7 linked regions of the Homo sapiens genome follow. The protein of the gene in region 4 purifies or fractionates together with the protein of the main gene of each other region. This does not show direct contact. Each region holds a gene or a part of one and is shown on either strand. Other genes may lie near its edges. The genes, in order: PLAA, PI4K2A, ORC4, LAMP1, DNM3, ATP6V1A and FKBP10.

The links.
Region 1: the proteins of LAMP1 (region 4) and PLAA purify together in Homo sapiens (affinity purification with mass spectrometry; 2 studies listed by BioGRID and IntAct, with this or other methods). This does not show direct contact.
Region 2: the proteins of LAMP1 (region 4) and PI4K2A purify together in Homo sapiens (affinity purification with mass spectrometry; one large-scale study listed by BioGRID and IntAct). This does not show direct contact.
Region 3: the proteins of LAMP1 (region 4) and ORC4 purify together in Homo sapiens (affinity purification with mass spectrometry; one large-scale study listed by BioGRID and IntAct). This does not show direct contact.
Region 5: the proteins of LAMP1 (region 4) and DNM3 purify together in Homo sapiens (affinity purification with mass spectrometry; 2 studies listed by BioGRID and IntAct, with this or other methods). This does not show direct contact.
Region 6: the proteins of LAMP1 (region 4) and ATP6V1A purify together in Homo sapiens (co-immunoprecipitation; one large-scale study listed by IntAct). This does not show direct contact.
Region 7: the proteins of LAMP1 (region 4) and FKBP10 purify together in Homo sapiens (affinity purification with mass spectrometry; one large-scale study listed by BioGRID and IntAct). This does not show direct contact.

Annotation. Positions count from the first base shown.
Region 1 is NC_000009.12:26,944,115-26,948,710, reverse strand, and holds the start of PLAA (phospholipase A-2-activating protein), read left to right. Parts: upstream 1-1,468; 5' UTR 1,469-1,665; coding exon 1,666-1,814; intron 1,815-4,596. UniProt on the Homo sapiens protein: Plays a role in protein ubiquitination, sorting and degradation through its association with VCP. Involved in ubiquitin-mediated membrane proteins trafficking to late endosomes in an ESCRT-dependent manner, and hence plays a role in synaptic vesicle recycling.
Region 2 is NC_000010.11:97,650,530-97,654,479, reverse strand, and holds part of PI4K2A (phosphatidylinositol 4-kinase type 2-alpha), read right to left. Parts: intron 3,540-3,950; coding exon 3,339-3,539; intron 1-3,338. UniProt on the Homo sapiens protein: Membrane-bound phosphatidylinositol-4 kinase (PI4-kinase) that catalyzes the phosphorylation of phosphatidylinositol (PI) to phosphatidylinositol 4-phosphate (PI4P), a lipid that plays important roles in endocytosis, Golgi function, protein sorting and membrane trafficking and is required for prolonged survival of neurons.
Region 3 is NC_000002.12:148,014,100-148,018,049, forward strand, and holds part of ORC4 (origin recognition complex subunit 4), read right to left. Parts: intron 1-3,950. UniProt on the Homo sapiens protein: Component of the origin recognition complex (ORC) that binds origins of replication. DNA-binding is ATP-dependent. The specific DNA sequences that define origins of replication have not been identified yet.
Region 4 is NC_000013.11:113,299,980-113,303,929, reverse strand, and holds part of LAMP1 (lysosome-associated membrane glycoprotein 1 precursor), read right to left. Parts: intron 1-3,950. UniProt on the Homo sapiens protein: Lysosomal membrane glycoprotein which plays an important role in lysosome biogenesis, lysosomal pH regulation, autophagy and cholesterol homeostasis.
Region 5 is NC_000001.11:172,386,632-172,390,581, reverse strand, and holds part of DNM3 (dynamin-3), read right to left. Parts: intron 3,450-3,950; coding exon 3,223-3,449; intron 2,010-3,222; coding exon 1,773-2,009; intron 1-1,772. UniProt on the Homo sapiens protein: Microtubule-associated force-producing protein involved in producing microtubule bundles and able to bind and hydrolyze GTP. Most probably involved in vesicular trafficking processes, in particular endocytosis.
Region 6 is NC_000003.12:113,795,531-113,799,480, reverse strand, and holds part of ATP6V1A (V-type proton ATPase catalytic subunit A), read right to left. Parts: intron 3,606-3,950; coding exon 3,542-3,605; intron 1,239-3,541; coding exon 1,035-1,238; intron 1-1,034. UniProt on the Homo sapiens protein: Catalytic subunit of the V1 complex of vacuolar(H+)-ATPase (V-ATPase), a multisubunit enzyme composed of a peripheral complex (V1) that hydrolyzes ATP and a membrane integral complex (V0) that translocates protons.
Region 7 is NC_000017.11:41,815,554-41,819,503, forward strand, and holds part of FKBP10 (peptidyl-prolyl cis-trans isomerase FKBP10 precursor), read left to right. Parts: intron 1-1,504; coding exon 1,505-1,650; intron 1,651-2,535; coding exon 2,536-2,725; intron 2,726-2,828; coding exon 2,829-2,974; intron 2,975-3,656; coding exon 3,657-3,846; intron 3,847-3,950. UniProt on the Homo sapiens protein: PPIases accelerate the folding of proteins during protein synthesis.

The sequences.
Region 1 (4,596 bases), on a different chromosome or scaffold from region 4:
GGGCAGATTATGAGGTCAAGAGATTGAGACTATCCTGGCCAACATGGTGAAACTCGTTTCTACTAAAAACACAAAATTTAGCTGGGCATGGTGGCGCGCTCCTGTAGTCCCAGCTACTCGGGAGGCTGAGGCAGGAATCGCTTGAACCCGGGAGGCGAGGGTTGCAGTGAGCCGAGATCGCGCCACTGCACTCAGCCTGGCAGCAGAGCGACACTCCGTCTCAAAAAAAAAAAAAAAAAAAAAAAAAAAAAAAAAAAAAAAATAATGGAAAGCCATCACAGGTTGTCAAACAGAGAAAAAACAATTAAGTGTATATTTCAGAAAGATAATTATATTTTAATGTGTAGGATTGGCTGGAGAGAAGGGGTAGAAAGGCCAGAGAAATGTTGAAATAATTTAAGTAGGACTAATTGGTACAGATTTCTAACAGATAGCTAGAAATACAGATCTAGAGTTTGGAGAAGACAATATGGGAATACAGCTCTAGAAATAAGCCAAGTAGTAAATAATCCACCCAGGGAGGGGATATGATAGCAAAGAAGTATCAAAAGTCAGCATTTCAAGAATGATCTCCCAAACCAGGGGAAAAGTGATTCCAAACCTAGAGTAGGAGTTTTAGGAAGGGAGAAGTCAGAAAAGTGTGAATTGGGCTTAGCAATTTAGAAAGGTTTGTGGAAAAGTGTAGTTGGATGCGAGAGAATAGCGGATGGGAAGAAAACAAAGTAAGGAGACAGGTCATGTTTACCCTGGCACTCAATAAGGTCTGATAATGACTAGCAAGTAGCACCACGGGTGGGTGGGCGGCGGGGTTGTTAAAAATACGTATCTCAGCTCTAACTCAGACCTACTGAATCAGAATCTACATTTTAACAAGCCGCCAGAGAAAAGTAGTTATACCTTTAAAAAATTGACTTGGACCACCGTATTTGCTAAATTTGACAACAGAGAGTAGGAGATTCAGATAACTTGAAACGGAGGAATAGTTCAATGATTAATAGTTCCCAATTTGGCCTCAAGCTTTCTCGTTTTAATTGAAAAACAAGGTTAACTTGCAAAAACCTCGAGATTCTCAGGGAAAAGCAGTGAGGATGACCTAACAGTAGACACCAAACAACCTCACTCAGCCATTCCGCCATGCCCAGCGCGAAAGACTCAGGTTTAAAATATCCGGATTCGGCGCGCCGGATGTCCACGCCAGCTGGCGCGGCATTATGGGAATTGTAGTCCCGGCCCGCTTCCCGATTTACCACAAACTGTTGGGCCCGGAGTCGGAAGAGACCCGGGTTTGGGAAGGACCCCAGGGTCAGGCGTCCTGGTGGAAGGGCGGGCCTCTTTCTCTCTTGCTCAGCAGGGAGTCCAGAGCCCTGGAGGAAAGCCAGCTCAGCTCCGCATCGGCGTCGGCGGTTGGGACGCACACACTCTGCGTCATGGAGGGCTGAGGCCGATGATGAATTCCGGAGTGCCTGTCAGGCTTGCTGTGTCACTCGGCCCGCTCGGCGCGCCCCTTCCCAGCCGCCCTTCCGTACCGGCTCTCGGGCTCTTCCGGTCTCCGGCCGCCCCTTACCTGCAGGCTCTTCTCCCGCCGCGGCCCGGCGCTCTCCGAGTCGCCCCTGCGGACTGGTCTCGCACAGTGCCTGGGCACCGGGCGCCAGACAGACACTGGCCATGACGAGCGGCGCAACCAGGTACCGGCTGAGCTGCTCGCTCCGGGGCCACGAGCTGGACGTACGGGGCCTGGTGTGCTGCGCCTATCCGCCGGGAGCCTTTGTGTCCGTGTCCCGAGACCGCACCACCCGCCTCTGGGCCCCAGACAGGTGAGCGCTGGGAGTCGGGTTGCCCCGGCTGTGTTGCACGCTTCCCGGAGAGTGGAAGGAGAGTGACCCTTCCCTGTCAGTCCTGCCGTCTCTCTCTCCCCCCAGCCTTCCCTCTGCTCTCCGCTCCCTTCCAATTCTCAGACTATTAGAACTCTGTAAGAAACCATCGGGATTTAAGTGGAAAGAGCACAGGGTTGGGGGACCAAAGACCTGCCTTGTTGTGCTAACTTGACCACAGACGAGTCTCCTACCTTTTGGGCCTTCAGTTTTTGGACGATGATCTCCCAAGTTTCTTTTAGACTTGAAAATTTACTGATTGCAGTTGCACCCTCCGAAGTGAGGTAGTTTGAAGGCATCTGAAATGTCCTCTTTTTTTTTTTTTTTCGAAGAAGATGCTCTGTAGTCTTCTGTAAAATTTAATTTTTGAAGACTTTAGTTCTCAAAAATTGCACTGGTGAATCCTCTTTTCGTCCAGGTTAGAATTTTAGTCTGTGGTCTGTGCTGGTCCTGAGGGAGTGAAACCTCTCGGATGTTTTGTTTCTGTGCATGTGCTGTTTCTTGAGGAGAAGCAGCATCCATTGCCTTCAAAGGATTTATCAGAAGGGTTCACGAACCAAAAAAAAAAAGAAGAAAAAGGTTAGGAATCAGTCCTGATCGAGTTCACGGGTTCAGCCCTGATTTGGCTGGTTGTAACAGGATATTTAAGACCTAGAAGACAGATTGCAGTTCAGAGAAAGAAAAATTGAGGTTAGTTATTTTGTTATTTAGTAGGTCTCCCACTGCTAGAGATTTTAGAATTTGAGTCACCATCCATAAATTCAGTTGATAACTGTTGAGTGCCTCCTCTTTGTTTGGGATACTGGAGAGGAATAAAGACAGACAAGTTGCCAGTGTTTCTGGAGCTTTCTTACAGTCTGATGGGGAAGATAGATTAAAAAACAAGCCAATAAATAATTAAAAACTGGCATGTGAAGAAAACATACAGTTAATTAGGTGGAGAGATATATTAAAGGAAGCCTCTCTGAGGAGTTGTTTGTTTAAAGTTGACATTTGAAGCATGAGATGGATGGAGCTGGTCGTGGAAGAGCAAATAGGGAGGATTGAATTGGAAGAGCATTCCAGGCAGCTGGAGGAGCAAACAGGAGGGAATTAGCTGTGAGGTGAGGGCAGGTTTTGAGGCTGGCAAGAGCCAGGTTATGGAGTTTGCAGATGGAAGCCTTCAAATAGTTTCAAGCAGGGAGCAACATGATCTGATTTCCGTGTTGAGAAGTTTCTGCTAGCTGATGGTAGAGAATAGATTGAGAAGGGATAAGTGTAGAAGTGGGTTTGCTTGGAGGCTTTTGAAGTAGTATAATCAACACAAGATGGTCCACTAGGCTAGGGATAGTATAGAGCAAATTCCTGTATTGAATTGAATGAGATGATCTCTAAAGATCTAACTCTAAAATTCTATAATATCCAAAACTACTTAGTAATACTAATATGGAACTTTTTGTTTGAGTACAGTTATTAAGTTTTTGCCTTTAAAATTGAATCCAGTAGAAGCATAAGCCCAGTAGAATATAACCATTGCAGTAAGGAGTATAATCAAGGATGCCTGTTTTAATAATGGAATCCTGTCATTAAACTTTTGGGACTGTACTAGTTTGACAAGGGTTTAATCACTGGAGTGGTTGTGCTTACCAGGAACTTGAAGAACTTTGGGCTGAACTGATTCTCTATTTGAAAAGTGATTTTGTTGTTCATTGAACTATTGATTTTTTTTTTTTGAGACAGAGTTTTGCTCTTGTTGCCCAGGCTGGAGTGCAATGGCACAATCTTGGCTCACTGCAACCTCCGCCTCCGGGGTTCAAGCGATTCTCTTGCCTCAGCCTCCCAAGAAGCTGTGATTACAGGCATGTGCCACCATGCCCGGCTAATTTTGTATTTTTAGTAGAGATGGGGTTTCTCCATGTTGGTCAGGCTGGTCTTGAACTCCTGACCTCAGGTGATCTGCCCACCTTGGCCTCCCAGTGTTGGGATTACAGGCGTGAGCCACCACGCCTGGCCGAACTCATGATTTTTTTGTTTTTGTTTTTCAAAATTCATTCCTGTATGTATTTATCTAACACTGATGAAGAACTTGCATTTTGCCACAGTGTGTGTTAGTGCGTAGTGAGATAAGATTATTTAGTCTCTCATATCCTGCTGGTTAGGTTAGCAAGCTTGTCCATCCTGTGGCCCATGGGTGGCTGTAAGAGTGGCCCAACACAAATTTCATAAACTTTCTTAAAACATTATGAGGCTTTTTTTGTGATTTTTTTAAAAATGCTCATCAGCTATTGTAATTATTAGTGTATTTTATGCGTGGCCAAAGACAATTTTTCTTCCAATGTGGCCCAGGAAAGTCAAAAGATTGGATACCCCAGGGTTAGAGTGTTTCATAGTCATTAGGTGATTAAGCTCTTATTGATGCCAACTGAAGTGTCTCAACCATACCTTTAATGTTGTAAAAGTGTCCTCAAATCTGACATATTGACAATTTTTATTTCATGATACATGTCTTCTCTTTTGTGTTGCTGTAGCAGAATACCACAGACTGGGTAATTTGTAAAGAAAAGAAATGTATTTTTCATAGTTCTGGATGCTGGGAAGTCCATTATCAAGGTATCGGCATCTTGAGAGGGCCTCTTTGCTGCTGTATCATCCTATGGTGGAAGGGTAGGAGAGCACACAGCAAGAGGCGCAGAGGGGCCAAACTTGCTTTTGTAACAAAGCCACTCTCTAACCCAGTCCCGCAATA
Region 2 (3,950 bases), on a different chromosome or scaffold from region 4:
TTTTTTCCCATGAACCTGAGAGGCAAAATAACTGCCTCTCATCTATCGCTCCATGCTACCATCTAGTATTAATAGACTACCTAAAATGGATGTGCATGGTACTGTAGTAGGCACTCCCTGCCTTACAAATCAGAAAACTCAGGCATAGGAATGAAGGAAAAAGAGCTTTCCTAAGGCTACCTTGCCAGTGTCCACAGTGAAACTCCTGGCTCTCTCAAGCCATAAATCCCCTTTTGCCCCCATCATATTTATTTTCTATCATTCTTCCTAACAAACCACTTTTTCCCCATGACTAATGAAACTATCATAACCTGAAACCTCATAGGAGCAGAGAGCAGAGACAGCCAGTGAGTGAGAATTAGAGCCTTACCATTTGAAGTTCCAATGCAATGTGAACCTTGTTTCTATAATGACAGATGCTCTGATCAACTGGATAGAGTCCTGTCACAAGAGTTGGGGAGACAGGGAGAGGAGTCCTCTTACTATTCTCCAGCAGCTATATGTTAAGCTTCCAAAGTTCTGTCTCATCTCAGTCTCATGGAAGACAAGTATTTTTTTTTTTTGAGACGGAGTCTCGCTCTGTTGCCCAGGATAGAGTGTGGTGGCACAATCTCAGCTCACTGCAACCTCTGCCTTCCAGGTTCAAGCGATTCTCCTGCCTCAGCCTCCCAAGTAGCTGGGATTACAGGCACGCACCACCATGCTCAGCTAAGTTTTGTATTTTTAGTAGAGACAGGGTTTCACCCTGTTGGCCAGGCTGGTCTCGAACTCCTGACCTGAGGTGATCCACCCACTTAGGCCTCCCAAAGTGCTGGGATTACAGGCGTGAGCCAATGAGCCCAGCCAAGACAAGTATTTTTGTTGTTGCTGACTTTCTGATGCAAAAGATCCTCAGGCCTCGTGAAGGTTCTCTAACAGGGAAAGAGGAAGACCAAAGATAGGGACGAAAGGGATTGTGGGGGTGACACTAACGATTAGAATAGCTGATAAAAATATCACAGGCTAACATATGGAGGGTTTACGTTGTGCCTGGCACTCACTCAGCTATGTGCTTCATATAGGCTGTCTTGTGTAATATTGATGGCCACTCTACAAAGTAGGAACTATTTATATCCCTATTTTTACAGTAAGGAAACTGAGCCTAGGGAGGTTACATGACTTGCCCAAGTGTTACACAAATCAAAAACTGCAGAGCAAGAATTCAAACTCAAGTCCTCTGATTCTTGGGCACCACACTCCAGAAGCACCAACAGAGCAGGTAGGCATAGAGCCAGACACGGTCTGCTATTTGCCTAGTAAAGGAAGAAAACTATAGAGTGATAAGCAAGGAGAATGTAAAAGTTTCTAGAGTCTAAGAGGAGCCTAGTAGAAGCATTTCAGGTTAGGAGACTTAAGAACATTAATTATCATACAAGATGTTCAAAGCATGCTGTAAAACTATCTGCACAGAGAGGGAAAAGTAAGGCATAAAGAGAAGGAATGAGCTGTACAAAGCCAGGCAGTGAATTAGATGTGAAATGGGAACTAGAAGCCTGGTCAAACATTTTCTCGCTAGACCTAAAGTTGGAAGAACTTTGGTATTGTTTCTCATGATTTCATATTCATTTACTGACTCAGCTGGTACTTCATGAATGCTTACTATAAATATAGTATTTTGCTAGGTGCTGAGAATGAGAGAGGAAATCTTGAGAAGTGGTCTCTGACTTCTATAACTTACAAACTAGTTGGCTAATTGTTTGGAGTTTAGTAGCAAAGGAGCAGACATGGTTAAATATCCACAATAGTCACATTTTCCTCTCAAACGGAAGGGAAGTTTCTACTGCTGATCAATCTCTTTGCTCATAGAATCTGCTATCTAAACCTGAGAAGACATCTTTAAGGCTGGGTGTGGTGGCTCACACTTGTAATCCCAGCACTTTGGGAGGCCAAGGCAGGAGGATAGCTTGAGCCCAGGAGTTCAAGACCAGCCTGGGCAAAACAGGGAGACCTTGTCTCTACAAAAAATTAAAAAAAAAAAAAATTAGCCAGGCATGGTGGCACATGCCCGTAGTCCCAACCTGAGAGGCTGAGGTGGGAGGACTGCTTGAGCCTGGGAGGTCAAGGCTGCAGTGAGTTGTGATCATGCCACTGCACCCCAGCCTGGGCAACAGAGCAAGACCCTGTCTCTAAAAATAAGAAAGAAAAGAAAACTTTAAGCAGAGGGATTTTAATCTAGAGACATGCTCCCTGGGGTGTCAACAGATAGACTGCAACGTTTATGAACCATTGCCCTAAAATTATACACAAAACAATAATTGCAAATATATGTACTTTTTCTGGAAAGGGGGTCTATAGGTTTCATCAGATTCTCAAAGAGTTATTTACTAAATAACTAAATAAATTTAGTTTTAGTTATTTAGTAAATAACTAAATAAACTAGCATAGACTAGTTAAGACTAAGCACGGAGCCAGGATTGTTTAGATGACTCAGCAGCCTCAGGGCATCAGATGAGAGTCCCACCTAAGTTGTTACTAAACCCCAGGTAGCCACGTACTCAGTGAATGATGTGTCCGGACATGTTCATATGCTGACCAGTAGATTCCTTCCCCTCATAACCTTTGGTGAGTTTCATGGAATACCTTGTAGTGCAGGGGTTCTTAGCCTGGTGTCAGTAAACTCCCTCAAATTGTATGCAATCAATTCTGTATTCAAGCATATTGGTGGGGGTGGGGGTTGGGGGAGACCTCAACTATGTCTATAACACATACAAGATGTGTATGAATCCATTCTGAGTGTGAGTTTGCCTAGATCTGGCACCCCTATTTTGATGTGTTCAGACAAGTCCCAAAATTCGACAGCATAAAGATAAGTTAGAAATATTCCATGTCAGTTCCCTGTAGGGTTCAGGCCAGACCATTGTTCTAACCCTCAGCCTGTCCTAAAGTCTTCCTTGTCAGACCCTGCAGAAGTTCTTAGCTGTCATCAGCCAGTCCTAGACTGTATCGAAATGCTGGGATGGCTCAGAAGTCTGAGAGTAAGCCACAAAGTCACTAGGTTTCTAACTAGCTTGGGGTTAGCTGGGATTCAAAGACCAAGGGAGCCATAAACATGCAGTAGAAGTTTGTGAATTTCCTAAAATTGTATGCAAAAATTGTGTGTGTATCCTTCAAAAGATAGCCTTCATCAGGTGATCAAATCATAAGCCTAATCCTGCCATCCTCCCGAAAAAAGATCGAGAACCCAGACTTAGGGTATAAATGACCCCACTGGACCCAAGGTCCCACTAACATGTAGCAGGGCTTAGGCCCCAGGAAAACTGTGGCCAGGCAGTAAGGCTTCCTGGAGATGGGTCACTGACCTTTGTACGGGGAACAATGTTGAGTTCCAGTTTTTGGTCCACCAGGCTGGCCCCTGCTTCTGAGAGATAGCCCTGGTTAAGGACAAGGCAGTCACGGCCAAAGCAGCAAGGACAGCACAGCTTCTGCAGCCACTTGGTCCACTTAGGATTAAGATGCCCATAGGGCTCTTCATTCTTGGGTTTGAAGACAGCAATGATCCTCTACAGAGACCAAAGAAAAAGAGGATGTTAAATCCGAGTTGACCAAAATAGCCCACAGACCAAGTCAGCAGGAATCTGGAAAGAAATGACAGGGCATAGGCAGACAATTCCTACTTACAGTTGGACTCAGGTTTCTCCCAGTTGGTAAGGGGAAGACACCAGCTCGTGTGTGCAGCTAAGAGACCCACTGCTAGAAAGGGTTGTGGCCAAAGAACATCTTAAGTCTTCTCTTTCTTCCTTGCTCCTTTTTCCCTCTTCTCCATCTCTTTTCCCTCATATAAGTACCTACCTCTAACTTTGTGCTTCAAACAAACAAGGTAAATGGATTGCTACATTTCTAGGAGCAAGACACAGAAGCAGGCCAGGTACAAGGGTTCATGCCTGTAATCCCAGCACTTTGGGAGGCCAAGG
Region 3 (3,950 bases), on a different chromosome or scaffold from region 4:
TTGACAGGCCAAGGCAGGAGGATAGCTTGAGCCCAGGAATTCAGGATGATTGTGTGCAATACAGCGAGACCTCATTTAAAATAAAAATAAACACAAAAAATCAAAATCAAAAATAAAAATAAAAGCACATTGCCTAACAAAGCTGGGGACTCAGATAAACTACCCAATTTATGTTCAGAGTTTAAGGACAACATCATTAGGATAAGAGGAAATTGAAGGAAAATAGAATTCATGATCTTAAAGTCTTCCTTAATGTCATGTGTATAACAGAAGGAATCCCAACTCTTGAACATGAATAGTGACTTGGGACTGAAAGCACTCCTAGAGACCTTTCCTAGAAAAATGTACCTTCTTAAAAAAGATACTATTATTCTAGGACTCATATATTCCTATAATTTTTTAAATACAACTGGTACTCAAGGCACACAAGAAAAAAATATCATAAGCTAGCAGACACAGACTTAGAAAATTTAGAAACTGGAATTATCTTCAACAAACAACAAATGAACTATGAATATAGTCGGCCCTTCATAGCCACAGATTCACTCAACCAAGGATTAAAAATACATGTATATTTTTAAAAACACGACTATAAAAAATAATAGAAATTTTTAAAAAGCCATGACAGTATAACAATATTTACATAGCATCTACATTGTATTAGGTACCATAAGCAATCTAGAGATTATTTAAAATACGTGGGAGGATGTGTGTAGGCCGTATGCAAACATGATGGCATGTTATATAAGGAATTTGAGCTGCCTGTGGATTGTGGTATCTGCACGGGGTTCTGAAACCAATTTCCAGCAGATACTAAGGAGCAACTATACTAGGCCAATAAAAGCAAGATTGTAATTTTCAGCAGGTAACCAGAAACAGTAAGAATATCACCAATATCTTTAAAAAGATACTGATGCATTGATCTAATAATCTCGATGAATACAGGGCAAGATAAAGAATGCCACACGATGATTGAACATTTCCTCTACCCCCACAACCACACTTGACTAGGAGAAAAAAAAAAAAGAAGAAAAGAATTCCACACAAAAAGATTAGAGTGAAACAGCAGAAAAATTACAACCAAAAAAAGAAACAAACAAAAAAAAATTCTAAAAGAGAGATTTCCTTCAAAGCAGCATGAATTATTAGGTTGGTACAAAATTAATTGTGGTTTTTGCATTGTTGGAATTTGCCATTTGATATTGGAATTTTTTTTTTTTTTTTTTTTTTTTTGAGATGGAGTCTCTCTCTGTTGCCCAGGCTGGGCTGCAGTGGCGCGATCTCGGCTCACTGCAAGCTCTGCCTCCAGGGTTCACACCATTCTCCTGCCTCAGCCTTCTGAGTAGCTGGGACTACAGGCACCCGCCACCACGCCTGGCTAATTTTTTGTATTTTTAGTAGAGACAGGGTCTCACCATGTTAGCCAGGATGGTATCGATCTCCTGACCTCGTGATCCGCCCACCTCAGCCTCCCAAAGTGCTGGGATTACAGGTGTGAGCCACCACACCCGGCCTGGAATACATTCTTAAATAAATGTGGTTATGTTATATGTCATTTTAATGGGCATTTCTTGCTTTTTTTTTTTGGCTAATGACTTATTACTTGCTGTTTATATTTATTTTGGACTATGGAAATGATGCTAGACAAAAAGCAAAGTTGAGTGATTTTCTTATTTAAGTTCAAAGTGGGTCGTAAAACAGCAGAGACAACTTGCAATATCAACAATGCATTTGGCCCAGGAACTGCTAATGAACGTACAGTGCAGTGGTGGTTCAAGAAGTTTTGCAAAAGATACCAGAGCCTTGAGGATGAGGAGTGTAGTGGCAGGCCACTGGAAGTTGACAACAACCAATTGAGAGCAATCATTGAAGCAGATTGATCCTCTTACAATTACATGAGAAGTTGCTGAAGAACTCAACGTAAGAACTCAACGTCAACCATTCCACAGTTGTTCAGTATTTGAAGCAAATTGAAAAGGTGAAAAAGCTCGATAAGTGGGTGCCTCACCAGCTGAGCAAAAATTTAAAAAAACACCGTTTTGAAGTGTTGTCTTCTCTTATTCTCCACAACAACGAACCATTTCTCAATCGGACTGTGAGGTGCAACAAAAACTAGATTTTATATGACAAGCAATGACCAGCTCAGTGGCTGGACCGCGAAGAAGCTCCAAAGCACTTCCCAAAGCCAAACTTGCACCAAAAAAGGCCATGGTAACTGTTTGCTGGTCTGCTGCCGGTCTGATCCACTACAGCTTTCTGAATCCTGGAGAAACCATTACATCTGAGAAGTATGCTCAGCAAATCAATGAGATGCACTTAAAACTGTGATGCCTGCAGCCAGCATGGGTCAACAGAAAGGGCCCAATTCTCCACAGTAACACCCAACCGCACACTGCACAACCAACACTTCAAAAGTTGAACGAACTGGGCTACAAAGTTTTGCCTCATCTGCCATATTCACCTGACCTCTCAACTGACTACCACTCCTTCAAGCATCTCTACAACTTTTTTCAGGGAAAATGCTTCCACAACCAGCAGGATGCAGGAAAAAGCTTTCCAAGAGTTTGTGGAATCCTGAAGCATGGATTTTTACATTACAGGAAAAAACAAACTTATTTCTTGTCGGCAAAAATGTGTTGATTGTAATGACCTATTTTAATTAATAAAGATATGTTAGAGCCTCGTTATAATGATTTAAAATTCGCTGTCCCAAACCACAATTTCTTTTGTACCAACCTAATGCATTGACAGCTGATTTCTCAAAATCAATAATGAAAACCAAAAACAGTGAAATGTTATCTTCAAGGTACAAGTAAAACAACCACAAATCTGTAATATCCCCCAAAACATTCTTCAAGATTGAAGGCAAAACAAAAAATTAAGACAAAGCAAAAAAATTAAGAGAACTGACCATCAGAATGTCTGCATTATGAAACTTCTACTGAGTGTGCTAAAGTAAAAGTTAAAAGATTCCAAAAGAAAAGTCAGAGACGCAGGAAGAAATTAAGACATGGTAAACACATAGGAACATCTAGCTCAAAGTACTGTCCAGCAGCAATACAGTAAAAGTGACATAAGTAATTTAAAATTTTCTATTGTTCACACTAAAAGAAAACAAGGTGAAATCAATTATAATTTCAACATGTAATCATAATGAAAAGCTGAGGTATTTTACATTGTTTTCATACTGTCTTTGAAATATGGTGTTTATACAACATTACAATGCAGATGCTAAATTAAAACTGCCATATAAAATACTTGATCTATATTTTTATATAATTTGCAGCTAATGCCGGGTGCAGTGGCTCACGTCTGTGATCCCATCACTTTGGAAGCCCAAGGTGGGTGGATCACTTGAGGTCAGGAGTTTGAGACCAGCCTAGCCAAAATGGTGAAACTTTGCCTCTACTAGAAATAAAAACATTAGCCAGGTGTGGTGGCACATGCTTGTAATCCCAGCTACTAGGGAGGCTGAGGCAGGAGAATCACTTGAACTTGGGAGGCGGAGGTTGCAGTGAGCCAAGATCATGCCACTGGACTCCAGCCTGGGCAACAGAGCGAGACTCCATCTCCAGGGGGGAAAAAATCTCCAAAAATTAAAAAATAATAATTTAATAATTTGCGGTTAAGAAAGGTTTATGTATCCGAGTTGTTCCAAACATACAGGTTTTACAGTAACTGAATCAAGTGTCAGTTTTTAAACTTAATTGAACACTAAATAAAACTAAAAATTCAGTTCCTCAGTCATACTAGCCACATTTCAAGTGCTCAAAAGCCACACGCAGCTAGTAGCTACTGCAATGAATAGCACAAGCATAGAACTTGTTATCTGGAGTTTAAACTACGTATACAATTCAAAGAACAATGACAGCCTATAAGACCTACATGAAGATAAAAGTTGCCATCCCAGAAGAGAGTAATGCTCCAAGCACAGAGAAGATATTGGCCAT
Region 4 (3,950 bases):
TATTTTTAGTAGAGACGGGGTAGACAGGGTTTTGCCATGTTGGCCAGGCTGGTCTCCAACTCCTCGCCTCAAGTGATCCACCTGCCTCAGCCTCACAAAGTGCTGGGATTATGGGTGTAAGCCACCATGCCCAGCCAGGTCTCAGCTTTCAGAGGAAAACAAAGAAATATCATTTAAATAAATTTAAAGTAAGCTTTGGCAGCACAAGATGCCTGTATTACTCTGGAGAGACCCAGGAATTTTGAGTTATTAAAATAAACTTACCCTCAGAAGGCAATTTTGGTATAGAAGAAAATAAGAGCATCAGCACACAGAGCTTGAGGAGGAAATGTATGTATGCTATAAGGGTCAGAAGTTTTTTTAAAAACCTCCACAACAGTGGCAACTGGGTAGCAAAAAAAAAAAAAGACAAAAAACCTCAAGTAAGTTACAATGTTTCCAGTAACCTGACAGGTGTCACAGCCCAACAGGACAGCCGTTGGCAGCATCTCCAAGGTGGGCACCCTGGCCTACTGGTGACTGCTATCTCCGGCAGTCCTGTACTCAGACACGAACAGGACCACTTCTCCAGGGATCACATAAAGGAGTAACTGTGGCTTCAAAATACCCCCACTTGGGAGAAATTCTGTTCTCTGAAACAAGTGCCGCTGTGGGAAGCATGCGTGCTTCTGAGTCACAGCCCTCAGTTCTTGGAGGTTCTTGCAGCACTTACTAGCTGTGCAACCATGGCCAGTAGCAGAGCCCAATCCCCAGTCTCTGCACCCACGAGCAGGAGGAGAGAGTGCCAAGGCCTCAGGGCTGTCGGAGCAGCTGAGCATTTGGTGCCCGGCACTGACGCCAGCTTTGATGTCAGCTGTTATTAAACATCTGCACAGGTACAGAGGGTTCCCATCAAGTTCATCATTCAATCCTCAGTATCTGACACAAAACATCAAAAACTATCTCATTTAACAAGCACTTGGAATGCACTTACTTTGTGCCAGGTGCTGCTCTAAGCACATCCCAGTTATCATGACAACTCTTCATAGGGAGATTAAGGCATAGAGAGGTCAACTAACCCACCCAGGTCACACAGCTAGTGAGTGGCGGAGACCTAGATCTAGAAGGGGTCTTCTGACTCACAGGACGTGCCACTTCTGAGCCACGCTGCCTCTCCAGCACTTGATGACTGAGGGAACGGGCTTCCAATGAGGAAACACTGGCTGGGTGCAGTGGCTCATGCCTGTAATCTCAGCACTTTGGGAGGCTGAGGAAGCGGAGGACTGCTTGAGGTTAGGAGTTCCAGACCAGGCTGGTCAACACAGCAAGACCTTGTCTCTTAAAAAAAAAATTTAATTTTTTTGAATTAAAATAAATAAAAATTAAGAAATACTCGCTTTTGACATTAAAGATTACCATCTGAAGAAATGAGTAAAAAACTTCATTTTAAAAAATTAGGCCGGGCACAGCCCGTAATCCCAGCCTGTAATCCCAGCACTTTGGGAGGCTGAGGCAGGCGGATCACCTGAGGTCAGGAGTTTGAGACTAGCCTAGCTAGCATGGTGAAACCCCGTCTCTACTAAAAAATATATACAAAAATTAGACGGGCATGGTGGCGCATGCCTGTAGTCTCAGCTACTCGGGAGGCTGAGGCAGAAGAATCACTTGAACCCGGGAGGTGGAGGTTGCAGTGAGCTGAGATCGTGCCACTGCACTCCAGACTGGACAACATAAAGAGACTGTCTCAAAAAAAGAAGAAAAAACAATTTATTAAGAAATTACATCTTAGGCTGGGTGTGGTGGCTACCGCCTGTAATCCCAGCACTTTGGGAGGCCGAGGTGGGCAGATCACCTGAGGTTAGGCGTTTGAGACCAGCCTGACCAAACATGGAGAAACCCTGTCACCACTAAAAATACAAAATTAGCCGGGCATGGTGGCGCATGCCTGTAATCCCTGGTACTCGGGAGGCTGAGGCAGGAGAATGGCGTGAACCTGGGAGGCGGAGCTTGCAGTGAGCCGAGATCGCACCACTGCACTCCAGCCTGGGCGACAGAGCGAGACTCCGTCTCAAAAAAAAAAAAAAAAAAAAAAGAAATCACATCTTAGTTTTTCTTGGCTTGATTCTTTTAAATATGGTATTTTTATTCTACTTAACCAATGATGCACAATCATTTATGAAGAACTAAAGGAAAAAAATACCATCCCAGGCACTGAATCACAACCTCTAGAGGCAAGGTATAAGTGTGTGTGTGTGTAAATATATATATATATATATATATATATATATATATATATATATATATATTTTTTTTTTTTTTTTTTAAATGGAAACAGAGTCTCACTCTGTCACCCAGGCTGGAGTCCAGTAGCATGATCTTCGCTCACTGCAACCTCCGCCTCCCGGGCTCAAGCAATTCTCCTACCTCAGCCTTCCAAGTAGCTATGACTACAGGGGTACGCCACCATGCCCGACTAATTTTTTTTGTATTTTAGTAGAGATGGGATTTCACCATATTGCCCAGGCTGGTCTCGAACTCCTGAGCTCAGGCAATCCACCCACCTCGGCCTCCCAAAGTGTTAGGATTACACGTGACAGCCACCGTGCCCGGCCGTATATTTCTTTTTAATTTTTTTTGTAGAGACACTGGTCTCGCCATGTTGCCCAGGCTGATCTCAAGCAATCCTCCTGCCTTAGCCTCAAAGCACTGAGATGACAGGCATGAGCCACTGTGCCTCGCTGTGGTATGTATATTTCTAAAAAGCTGATCGTGTGGATCCGTGCATATGTTTGGTTGAGAGCCACTGCTATAAAATTGATCCTTTCTTCATATATGTACTCAGCACTTACTACCTGTCAGTTAAGGAAGGGAGATACACAGGCAAAAATAATCCCAGTGCAGCCGAACAGATGTTACCATGTAGAAGCACATGCAATAAAAGTCTTGGGTACAGAGAAGAAAGGGTAACGTTGTCTGGGATGGGGCTAATGCAATACAAATTCAAAATTACAGGGCTACAAAGACATTCTGACCTCAAATCTGCTGACAAATTCATTCTTTCCACCGCATAACTGACAATCTGCACAATCAAAGGTAACATCGGTTAGTAGAAAAAAAATTTTTTTCTTTGTTTTTTTGAGATGGAGTCTCGCTCTGTTGCCCTGAAGAGCAGTGGCACGATCTCGGCTCACTGCAACCTCCACCTTCCGGGTTCAAGCAGTTCTCCTGCCTCAGCCTCCTGAGTAACTGGGACTACAGGCCTGTGCCACTACGCCTGGCTAACTTTTTAAAAATATTTTTAAAAAGAATAGAGATGGAGTTTCACCATGTTGTGGCCAGGATGGTCTCGATCTCTTGACCTAGTGATCGGCCTGCCTCAGCCTCCCAAAGTGCTGGGATTACAGGCATGAGCCACCACACCCAGCTTTTCTTTCTTTTCTTTTTCTTTTTTTTTTTTTTTTTTTGACATTGAGTTTCGATTTTGTTGCCCAGGCTGGAGTGCAATGGCACGATCTCAGCTCCCTGCAACCCCTGCCTCCCAGGTTCAAGCAATTCTCCTGCCTCAGCCTCCCACGTAGCTGGAATTACAGGCGCCTGCCACCACACCACGCCTGGCTAATTTTTGTATTCTTAGTAGAGACGGGGTTTCACCACATTGGCCAGGCTGGTCTCAAACCCCTGACTTCAGCTGATCCGCCCACCTGGGCCTCCCAAAGTGCTGAGATTACAGGCGTGAACCACTGCACCCAGCCGAGTATAAAATTGTTCAAACCTCCTAAGTGACAGTTGTTCAAGTGGAAAGGGTAAGGCGGTCATCCTGCTGACATCAATGGTTTAAAGGGTCACATTACGCAATCACAGCTAATCCTATCTATCAGGACAAGTTTCAGTTCATGTTTGAGCTTTCTAAGTATTCAAACACAGTAGCTTTAAACAATGCCTAATTATTAATATAGTGGAAATTTGTAATT
Region 5 (3,950 bases), on a different chromosome or scaffold from region 4:
TGGGAGTGTCTACAGATATTTTTAGTGGTCACAACTGGGGACTGCAACTGAAATCTAGAGGGTAGAGGGGAGGGATGCTGCTAAACATCTTACAATACACAGGACAGCCCTCCACAACAAAAACGTCAGTACTGATGAGGCTGAAAAACCCTGGGGTCATGGTCAGGAAATGGCTTTGGAAGCAGACTGCATGGGATTAAAGTCCAGCTCCACTAGGGACTGGCTGAGCAGCCTTGGGCAAGCTGTTTAACCTCACTGCCTCATCTGTAAAATGTGGATAACAACCTATTTGTTGTGAGCTTTAAACAAAAATGTATATACAAAGTTCTTAGGGCAATGCCTAGTAATATTGAGGGCACAATAAATGTTGGCTATTGCTAGTACTGCTATTACTAGAAATTTAGCACCATTCCAAATAATTTATAAGCCAAGTCTATTGAATTTAGAGAAAAAAAATTGGATTGAGAGTGTGTATATATCCTCTTTGCTTAGGACCAAAATGATAACAGTGGTAACAACTGTAGTCTTTACAGTGTATCAAACTCTTTCAAATACCTCATGTCATATGATCTGGGGAACAACCTTATTGAGTTCTCCCTGTTTCATAGATAAAGAACTCCCGTCTCAGAGTTAAATGAGTTGCCCAAGACCTTCAGTAACCCAGGTCTTCTGACTGCAAATCTCCTGCCTATTCTTGCTGTACCACCCTCTGTGTACTAGCTTAAGATCCCCCTTCTTCTCTTCTCTTCATTACGCTTAACAACTTGAAGATTAAAATAAAACGTAAGTGCCATAATCAGTTGGCAAGGTGGCTCAGGCTTCAGGGATGGGTAGAAGTCACATCTGTTTTTATGGTTCATATACAGTCAGATATTCCTTCATGGAGTATATAAATATTTTAATTCTCTGAATTGAATTTTTTAAAAATTAACTTTATATATGGGCTAATTTTCTTTCCTCTTTATATTTCTGATTTTGAGGGGGAAAAAAACCTTAGTACTTTATACCTTAAAAATCTCTGATTCTATTCATTGTGTATATTTTGACTGTAAGTATATGAAGGTGAGACTACAGCTCCAACTATGTGTGTTTCTAGGTCCATTATTTATTAGCTATATTGTTTCACAATTAAGCCTGAAAATCCACTTATAATTGTCAACACGTATTATTCAGATGTACAATGATCTATCTTATATATGATTAGTGACTGTATACAACAATCATGCCTATATTAAAATTTCTATGTGTAGTTTTTAAAAAAACAATTGCAGATCAATCAGCCAGATTTATTCAGCCTATATGAAAATTGGTAAAATTGAGTATAAGGATCACAGTTCAGAAGGCAGATGGATAAAATTCTCTAAGTCAGTGGTTTTCAAGAATTCTTTTGATAATGGAGAAGGCAAGACTTTAGTCCATGGAACTCTCATGACCTATAGAACACACAGCTTGCTACAATCCTCCATAGCTCTTTTGTTTCAAAGCCCTCAAATTCTCCCAATAGCTGCCAAAATGTCATTCATTGGGACGGAGTGTTCTTTAGTCCTATTTAGTCTGTGCCAATTGATAAATGAGAAATTTCAATGATCACAAGTGATTTTTAAATGGCATAACAGGGTTGGCAATTTTCCTATAGTCTCTGTTCATTGTGAAAACTGCAAACACGTACGATAAGATCTTTGCAATTTTCTCTTTCAAATAAATTTTGTCTGTCATTCTATGAGAAGAGAACCAAGGCGCACTACCCCCCCAATTTCTGCTCCATGCCTTACCTTGGGACACTGGGCGGGGCCCTCGTAGGCCTAGATGGAACTTGTGGAGGGGCTCCGAAGGAGTCACTGCTGCTGGGGAAAGGAGGTAATGGGCCTGGACGGAATGGGACTGGAGGAGCCCCAGAGTGGGGGCCAGGAGAGGGAATGGCAGGAGCTGGTCCTCGGCCGGATGTGGGCCTTGCGAGGGGAGCACTTAGTGTTGGCCTCCTTTGGGTTGTGGGGCTTGGAGGAGGTGACCTGAGGAAAAAGAGAAATCATAGTTTGCTCACTCCTCCTTTCTGTCTGAATTAATCTCTAAAAATGTTTTGTAACTTCCTGCTTTTTAAAAATTATTTTTTGACTGAATAAGTCCAATTCATGTCATGAAAGTCAAAGGGATAAAAGGGTAAATGGAGAAAAGTAAGTTTTCCTCTCCCTACCCCTTCACTCTGTTGAAACAACTATAGAAGTTTCTTGTGCATCCTTTTTAACTGTATTCTACATTTGTATAAGTATATATTTTCTCTCTCTATATATAAATTGCTTTTCTGTATACCATAGAACACAGTCTTCTACAACCTCCTTTTTTTTTTCTTTGAGGCGGAGTCTCGCTCTGTCACCCAGGCTGGAGTGCAGTGGCGTGATCTCGGCTCACTGCAACCTCTGACTCCTGAATTCAAGCGATTCTCCTGCCTCAGCCTCCCGAGTAGCTGGGATCACAGGTGTGCGCCACCACCCCCAGCTAATTTTTGTATTTTTAGTAGGGACAGGGTTTCACTATGTTGGCCAGCCTGGTCTCAAACTCCTGACCTTAGGTGATCCGCTTGCCTCGGCCTCCCAAAGTGCTGGGAATACAGGCGTGAGCCACCGCGCCTGGCATACAACCTCCCTTTTTTTTAAAGCTTCCCGTTAACTGGATTATCTTTTCATTTTAGGACTTAATAGAACTGTCTTGTTCTTTTTAGTGACTATATAACATTCCATTGTGAGGATGCACTGTGCTGCATTTTTAAGGGAGTTAGTATAATCTGATCCTTACTCCTGAATGTAAATATCTTTTCCCCTTTTTCTGTAGGTCCATCTTGGTTTAGGAAAGCACTCTCAGAAAATGATATTGGACAAGCGTGGCAGGGCTCAGGGGTTGTGGGTGGGTCCATCTTCTTTTTTTTTTTTGAGACGGAGTCTTGCTCTGTCACCCAGGCTGGAGTGCAGTGCACGATCTCGGCTCACTGCAAGCTCTGCCTCCCGGGTTCACACCATTCTCCTGCCTCAGCCTCCCGAGTAGCTGGGACTACAGGCACCCGCCACCACGCCCGGCTAATTTTTTTTATGTTTTTAGTAGAGACAGGGTTTCACTATGTTCGCCAGGATGGTCTCGATCTCCTGACCTCGTGATCCGCCCGCCTCGGCCTCTCAAAGTGCTGGGATTACAGGAGCGAGCCACCGCACCCGGCCGGGGCCATCTTCTTACCTGCGAGAGTGCTGTATCCAGGAGTCATCCACTGGAGGGGGTGCCGGAGTGGACACGGTGGCTGTGCTGATGTCCCCAATTATCCCAAGGGCTTCTTTCAGTGCTTGATACATTCGAAGCATCTCATCCCGGCGCTGAGCCTGCTCAGCAGATTCCTCCATCAGGGTATTTTGGTCCTCTGAAGAATACAACTGTGCTAGGAGCTCGGAATTTATGAAATCTTTAACCTGTCAGATCACCACAGAGAAATAAAAATGGGAATAAATGAGTGACTGAGTGGAGGTAGAAACATGGCTGTGGCAGTCAGAGTCTGGACAAAGTCCACCAAAGTCCACCAAAGTCCACCCTGGGAAAAGTGAAGCACCAAGCGTCTGTTTACTTTTGTTTTGTCTCTATCCCCAGTACTGGTGACAGTAACAGTTTCCCTCTGTCTTTTGGCTGTCCACACTGAAGGATGATAGAGATGAGTAGAAGAAGGCCAAACCCAGCCATCACCAGAACAGGGCCTGCTGGCTTTGTGAGCATTTCACAATATTGTCTGGAGCTGTTTGGCTTATAGAAGAGGGAAGGTACTATGAGGTAAGAAGCAGTATTTTCAACAGAAAACAGTGATGTGAAGAAACCTATGTAATCACACGTTTTCCATTCCTTGGCATTCGCAGTCCTTTCCCTAGCTTTTACCAAAATCACTGGAAAATTATTGAGATGCCAAGTTTCAGTGTCGTCTC
Region 6 (3,950 bases), on a different chromosome or scaffold from region 4:
TCTCCAGTAAGTAAAGTGGTTTCCCTAGGTCTTAGTATATTACTTTTAACACATTAAGGAAGTTCCGTTCTATTCCTTGTTTGCTAAGATGTTTCTAAAAATTGTAATAAACTTCAAATATTTTTCCACATTAACTGAGATATCCTTTTTCCATTGTATTATTACATTAGTGAATTACAATAGATTTTCTGTGTCTAATATGGACATTCCTGAGATAAACTTGCTTATGATGTATCATTTTATTTTCTTTAATATCCTACTAGACCTCATACACTAATATTTAATATTTTATTAAGTATCTACATTCATACCTACATTCATCAACAATATTAGCCTATAGTTTTCCTTTCTTGTATTGTCTTTATCTGGTTTTGCAGTTCTTCCTGTTTCTTGCTTCTCTTATTGGGCAGATAAGAGAATATTTTTATTCTATAAATAGTAAGTAGTAATACATGTTAGAATGTTAGCTATCTCCTAATATTAACCTTTTTTGGAATAAATTAGGAGATGACTTTGTAACATGTAATAAAAAGAACAAAACCAGACAAAGAACTCTGAGTACTAACTAGCATTGCATACTATCTGAGAAGTCTTTTCATTCTGGCATTTAATTTGCCTAAATTTAATTACACCATCTTTCCTTGAAGAATCCAAGATACAGGCACAAGAATGTAACTCACCTGTTTAAGGCCAATAGCTAATTATTGGAGGAACTAGAAGCCAATCCTTCTGAAACCTAGCCCTAGCATTCCTACAAAAATGTATGCTAACAAATCCTAAATCTACTACCTCTAATTTGGTTGGTGATGGGTATATTCCATTTCAAGATAAAAGTAAATCAAATGTTTCTTTCTCACATACAATATACCCAAAAACCATGCTAAGTACTATAATGAATAGAAAATTTCAATTAAAAATATTTAATAAATATTTATTTTGCTAGGCAAGAATCTGTAATATCCAAGGCTCTATCTGTCCTTGAAACACCCCAGTGTAACCCACAGATCTATCTTCCATGGAATTTAACAACTCACCTTTCCCACAAGCTGTACAATTTCTGCCAGGTCTTCTTCTTCCTGCAGAATTTCCTTAGCTTTCGTCCTCAGAGGAACGAACTCTGTGAAGTGTTTGTCATAGTATTCATCCAAGGCACGCATATACTTGCTGTAGCTGATGAGCCAATTGACAGAGGGGAAATGCTTACGTTGAGCTAGTTTCTTATCTAAGCCCCAGAACACCTGATTAAAAAAAACACACACACAAAAACAGTAATTTTTCTCAAAAAACAAAGTTAAAAAATACCGAAGCATGTTTGTCCCAACTATGCAATTCTTTTTTTTTTGTTTTTGAGACAGAGGCTTGCTCTGTCACCCAGGCTGGAGTGCAGTGGCATGATCTCGGCTCACTACAACCTCCACCTCATGGGTTCAAACAATTCTCCTGACTCAGCCTCACCAGTAGCTGGGATTACAAGCATGCGCCATCAGGCCCGGCTAATTTTTGTACTTTTAGTAGAGATGGGGTTTCACCATGTTGGCTAGGCTTGTCTCGAACTCCTGACCTCATGTGATCCCTGGCCTCCCAAAGTGCTGGAATTACAGGCATGAGCCACCATGCCTGACCCCTAAATATGCAATTCTACAATTCACTGGTCAAATTATACATCGTTTTAGTATATACTAAGTAAAATTAAAACAGAATAAAACTTGCAGAAAATGACAATAATCTATTTCCTTTCATTTTCCAAGTGCATAATACCTACAAATCGAATTTAAAATTTACCTCTATTTTCTTAATACTGTGCCAAATCCAAAAGCAAAAAGAAAAATTAATTTACTCTTTTGAAAATTATTATGGTACAATAGAACCAGAAAAGGTTTATGTAGATCGAATACACACTTTACTTTGATTAAAAACCTCTAACTGGCCAGGCATGGTGGCTCACGCCTGTAATCCTAGCACTCTGGGAGGCTGAGGCAGGTGGATCACCTGAGGTCAGGAGTTCGAGACCAGCCTGGCCAACATGGCAAAACCCTGTCTGTACTAAAATACAAAAATTATCCGGGCGTGGTGGTGGCGCATGCCTGTAATGCCAGCTTACTTGGGAGGCTGAGGAGGAAGAATTGCTTGAACCCGGAAGATGAAGGTTGCAGTGAGCTGAGATCACGCCACTGCACTCCAGCCTGCATGATGGGGGTGAGATTCCATCTCAAAAAAAAAAAAATTTTTTTTTTAACTGTTCTGGGCCAGGCATGGTGGCTCACGCTTGTAATCCCTGCACTTTGGGAGGCTGAGGCGGGTGGATCACCTGAGGTCAGGAGTTCAAGACCAGCCTGGCCAACATAGTGAAATATTGTCTCTATTAAAAACACAAAAAATTAGCCAGGTGTGGTGGCGGGTGCCTATAATCCCACCTACTTGGGAGGCTGAGGCAGGAGAATCACTTGAACCCGGGAGGTGGAGGTTGCAGTGAGCTAAGTTTGTGCCATTGCACTCCAGCCTGGGCAACAAGAGTGAAACTCCGTATCAAAACAAACAAAACAAAAACATCTAAGTGTTTTGATTAAATTTAGTTGCCTATCATTCACAGGGCCAATCCAACAACAACTGACAGTGATTTTTGTAAGGGCAAACATTCACAGATATTCCATGCATTTCTAACTCTGTTCCCTCTTTCCCCATAATTTAAAACTCAAAATTTTAGCAAACGTTAAAAAGCTTGAGAGTTGTACATTTAGCCTCTGACATTTCCTTTTCTCTGATACTGTCAGAAACACAAGTAAATATTCTGTTTTTCCCACATGAATAATATACACATATCACTTTTTTTTTTTAACTATAGCTCTGATTTGTACACATCTTTTATTTGGGCTTCTTTTAATAGCCAAGCTGGCTACCTATCCACTAAAATTCATGTCTTGTCACTGGAAAGCAAATGCTTAGGCAGAAACTGCATTTTCCAGCCTTGCTTTCACCTGGATGTGGCTAATAGAATGAGTGGAGTGACTGTGTCACTTTTGAATCCAAGGTTCAAAAAAGGTGGGTATGCCTTCTCCACAAGGCCCAGCTCCCTTGTGTCAGCTAGATGCAGATGATCACCAGGCTAGGTGACAGTGGAGTCACAAGATGGAAAGAATCCTGGACTCAGAATTATCACTAAACAGAAGAGAGCCTTGGATCATACTGTGAAGTGAAATAACTTCTGGGTATTACACATTTTTGGGCCTCTTTGTTTCTATAACTAGGGTTACTATGACTTAAAGGATAATACTACTCTAATACTAATAAAATTTTTGCTACCTATATTTTCCACTTATATATTATTAAGTTTATTATAAATCCTATGTAAACAGCTAAGAAAAAAACAGACAGTATTAAAGGCTCTGTGTTAAGAGTGTTTCTAAACCAGACTTTACCATTGCCTATCCTTTAGAGACTAAATTAAATACTTCACAACGATTACATTAGATCGCATTAGAACAGCAGGGGCTGCAGAGAGGAGGAAAGGCTCAGAAGTTGACTATACTAGGGAAAGACATACCTGAACGATACCAAGAGTGGCAGATGTAACTGGATCAGAAAAATCACCACCAGGTGGAGAAACTCTAAATTTAAAAAAAATATGGTCATTACAAAAAAAATGGTCATTAGAAATGCTTATGAAAAATAACATATATATAAATGTTAACTTTTTTTAAAGTCGATTTTAATGTAAATAACTTTTTAATGTAAATAACTTTAGAAATGACCTTTGGAAAGAAAATCTTACCTAAAAATCTTAAACAAAAGCCAGTATTTAAGTTGTAAACAACAATAGAAACTACAGAACACCTTCTATTATGAGACATGAGATAGATATTTTATTATAATCAATTTTATTATTCTAATCAAATAGATGAAGCAAGGAGGAAACGCTCTAAGAAAAAAGTATGGCTTTATGTAGTGATCAC
Region 7 (3,950 bases), on a different chromosome or scaffold from region 4:
CTCCTGGGTTCACACCATTCTCCTGCCTCAGCCTCCCGATTAGCTGGGACTACAGGCGCCTCCACAATTTTTTTTGTATTTTTAGTAGAGACGGGGTTTCACCATGTTAGCCAGGGTGGTCTCCATCTCCTGACCTCATGATCTGCCCGCCTCGGCCTCCCAAAGTGCTGGGATTACAGGCGTGAGCCACTGCGCTCGGCCAGAAAACTTTCTTAACCCATGGCCCCTTCAATTAAAAAAAAAAAAATCTCCCATCCTCACTTTACTTCTGAAAACTTAAAATAAATTAAAAGTGTATATAATTGGCTGGGCACAGTGGCTCACTCCTGTAATCCCAGCACTTTGGGAGGCCCAGGCAGGCAGATCACTTGAGGCCAAGAGTGACCAGCCTGGGCAACATGGCGAAAGCCCTCTCTACTAAAAATACAAAAATTAGCCAGATATGGTGGTGCATGCCTGTGATCCCAGCTGCTACTTCGGAGGCTGAGGCAGGAGAATCGCTTAAACCCGGGAGGTGGAGGTTGCAGTGAGCTGATTGCACCACTGCACTCCAGCCTGGGTGACAGAGCCGAGACTCCATCTCCAAAAATACATATGTATAAGTAAAAATAAATACATTAATTAAAAGTGTATAACTAAAAACAAACAAAAGCCATGGCACTTTTAGAATAGGCTTTTTTTTTTTTTTTTTTTTTTGAGAGGGAGTCTCACTCTGTCGCCAGGCTGGAGTCCAGTGGCACGATTTCGGCTCATTGCAACCTCCGCCTCCCGGGTTCACGCCATTCTCCTGCCTCAGCCTCCTGAGTAACTGGGACTACAGGCGCCCGCCACCACACCTGGCTAATGTTTTGTATTTTTAGTAAAGACGGGGTTTCACTGTGTTAGCCAGGATTGTAGAATAGGCCTTTTCAAAATGTGAAACCAGCTCCCACCCCACCTCTGCTCTCCCGTCTTTTCTTGGAGAGCCAATAGTATAATGGCAAATTTTAGAACTCAGCTGACTACATATTAGCTGTGTGACCTTGGGCAAGGCACTGAGTCTCTCAAGTCTCCATTGCTCTCATTAAGAAAAATGAGAACAAGAATGCCCACCTCACAGGGGAGACAAAGAAGATACGGAATGTAAAATGCCAAGCATTTAATCCCATATAGTAATGCTCCTCTGCCCCTCCGTGCTGTACGTACCACTCCCCACTTGCTGTCAGCAAATAGTAGCAGCCATCAGGCCCGGGCATCCCACCCAACCCCGTCCCAGGGCAATAGCAGCCCTTGTCCTCCTCAGGGACTTGCCTTTCACAACAGTCCGTTCTCTTAAGGTGGGCGTCACGGCCGACCTAGGAGGGGGACTTGAAAAGGAGGTGAGAAGTGTGTGTGCGTATCCACACCTGGCTATAGGGAGGGGGGATTGTGTGCGTGTGTGCAGGCACACCTGTGCATCTGTGCCACCATGGGCAGTGTGTGTGTGTCTGAGGTCACTGTATCCCATCTGTCCCTCCCCCCCCAGCTATGATCGCAACACCTTGGTGGCCATCGTGGTGGGTGTGGGGCGCCTCATCACTGGCATGGACCGAGGCCTCATGGGCATGTGTGTCAACGAGCGGCGACGCCTCATTGTGCCTCCCCACCTGGGCTATGGGAGCATCGGCCTGGGTGAGAAGGGCTGGGGCACAGGCCGGGGGTGGAGGAGACCACGAGGCAGAATCAGGGATCCTGGGGTGAGAAAACTGAAGTGCGGAGATGAGGAGTGACTTGCCCAATGTCACACTGTGCACGCAGTATGAAGAGTGGCAGCTCTGGCTGGGGCAGTAGCTGACATATATGGTCCCAGAGTTTTGGGAGGCCGAGGTGGGAGGATTGCTTGAACCCAGGAGTTCCAGACCAGCCTAGGCAACATAGTGAGACCTCGTCTCTACAAAAAATAAAATAAATTATCCAGGTGTGGTGGTGTGTGCCTGTAGTCCCAACTACTCAGAAGGCTCAGGTGGGAGGATTGCTTGACCCCGGGAGGCTGCAGTGAGCCATGATCATGCCACTGAATTCCACCCTGTGTGACAGAGCAAAACCCCTCTTTTTTTCTTTTTCTTTTTTTTTTTGAGACAGCATCTCACTCTGTTGCACAGGCTGGAGTTTAGTGGTGCGATCTCGGCTCACTGCAACCTCAGCCTCCTGGGCTCAAGCAGTCCTCCCTCTCAGCCTCCCAAATAGCTGGGACTACAGGTGCACACCACCACACGTGGCTAATTTTTTGTATTTTTAGTAGAGATGGGGTTTCGCCATGTTGCGCAGGCTGGTCTTGAACTCCTGGGCTCAAGCCATCCACCTGCCTTGGCCTCCCACAGTGCTGGGATAACAGGCATGAGCCACTGTGTCTGGCCCCCTATCTCTTAAAAAAAAAAAACAAAAATAGTGGCATCTCTGTCCCTGGTTTGGGTCTCTTGGTGCTGGGATGAGAGGAAGGGGAATAACAGGGCCCTGGCTGGGATCGTGGTTGGCAGAGCAGAACTCTGAGACCTCCACGCTGCTGCGCTCTCACAGCGGGGCTCATTCCACCGGATGCCACCCTCTACTTCGATGTGGTTCTGCTGGATGTGTGGAACAAGGAAGACACCGTGCAGGTGAGCACATTGCTGCGCCCGCCCCACTGCCCCCGCATGGTCCAGGACGGCGACTTTGTCCGCTACCACTACAATGGCACCCTGCTGGACGGCACCTCCTTCGACACCAGGTGAGGGGCTGGAGGGGAGCCCTGAGGCACTGGGGACTGTGGCATGGGGAGCGGGAATCCGGGGCCCAGCCTGCCTCTCCCACCTCCACCTCATTTTCTGCAGCTACAGTAAGGGCGGCACTTATGACACCTACGTCGGCTCTGGTTGGCTGATCAAGGGCATGGACCAGGGGCTGCTGGGCATGTGTCCTGGAGAGAGAAGGAAGATTATCATCCCTCCATTCCTGGCCTATGGCGAGAAAGGCTATGGTGAGGGTGGGCAAGGACACAAGGGGAAATTCCGCAGAAGAGGGAAAAACCAGGCCTCCACATACAGTTGCTCAGGTTGTATACTGCACGAGGGCATCCAACCAAGGACTCAAGGTGGGATGAAATCTACCCTTGGTGCTACTAAGAAGGGGTGCTTTGGCCGGGCGTGGTGGCTCACGCTTGTAATCCCAGCACTTTGGGAAGCCAAGGCGGGAGGATCACGAGGTCAGGAGATCGAGACCACGGTGAAACCCCGTCTCTACTAAAAATACAAAAAAATTAGCCGGGCGTGGTGGGGGCGCCTGTAGTCCCAGCTACTCGGAGAGGCTGAGGCAGGAAAATGACGTGAACCCGGGAGGCGGAGCTTGCAGTGAGCCGAGATCGCGCCACTGCACTCCAGCCTGGGTGACAGAGCGAGACTCTGTCTCAAAAAAAAAAAAAAAAAAAGAAGGGGTGCTTTATTCTGATTCACACGAAGGCTCAGTATGAGCCGGTGGTGGCCCTGGGGAAAACCCAGCTCAGGTCTTACTGGAGGAGCAAGAAGCAGGGCTGCTGATGGGCGGGAAAGGGCTCTGGAGAGTGGGGCTAGTGTCTTGCATGGTGCCCACTGGGCCTTCCTGAGTCAAGAAGGAGCCTCGGCTTGCTCCCCAATTTTATGGTTCAAGCCCTATCCCTTCCCCAGGGACAGTGATCCCCCCACAGGCCTCGCTGGTCTTTCACGTCCTCCTGATTGACGTGCACAACCCGAAGGACGCTGTCCAGCTAGAGACGCTGGAGCTCCCCCCCGGCTGTGTCCGCAGAGCCGGGGCCGGGGACTTCATGCGCTACCACTACAATGGCTCCTTGATGGACGGCACCCTCTTCGATTCCAGGTCAGGAGGGTCTTGAGGTGGGAGGGCGGGGGCTGGGTGAAACGTGGACGAAGCTGGGGGTCACTCTGAGCTGCCTGGAAGGGGAGGGCCCCTTTGACTCCCTT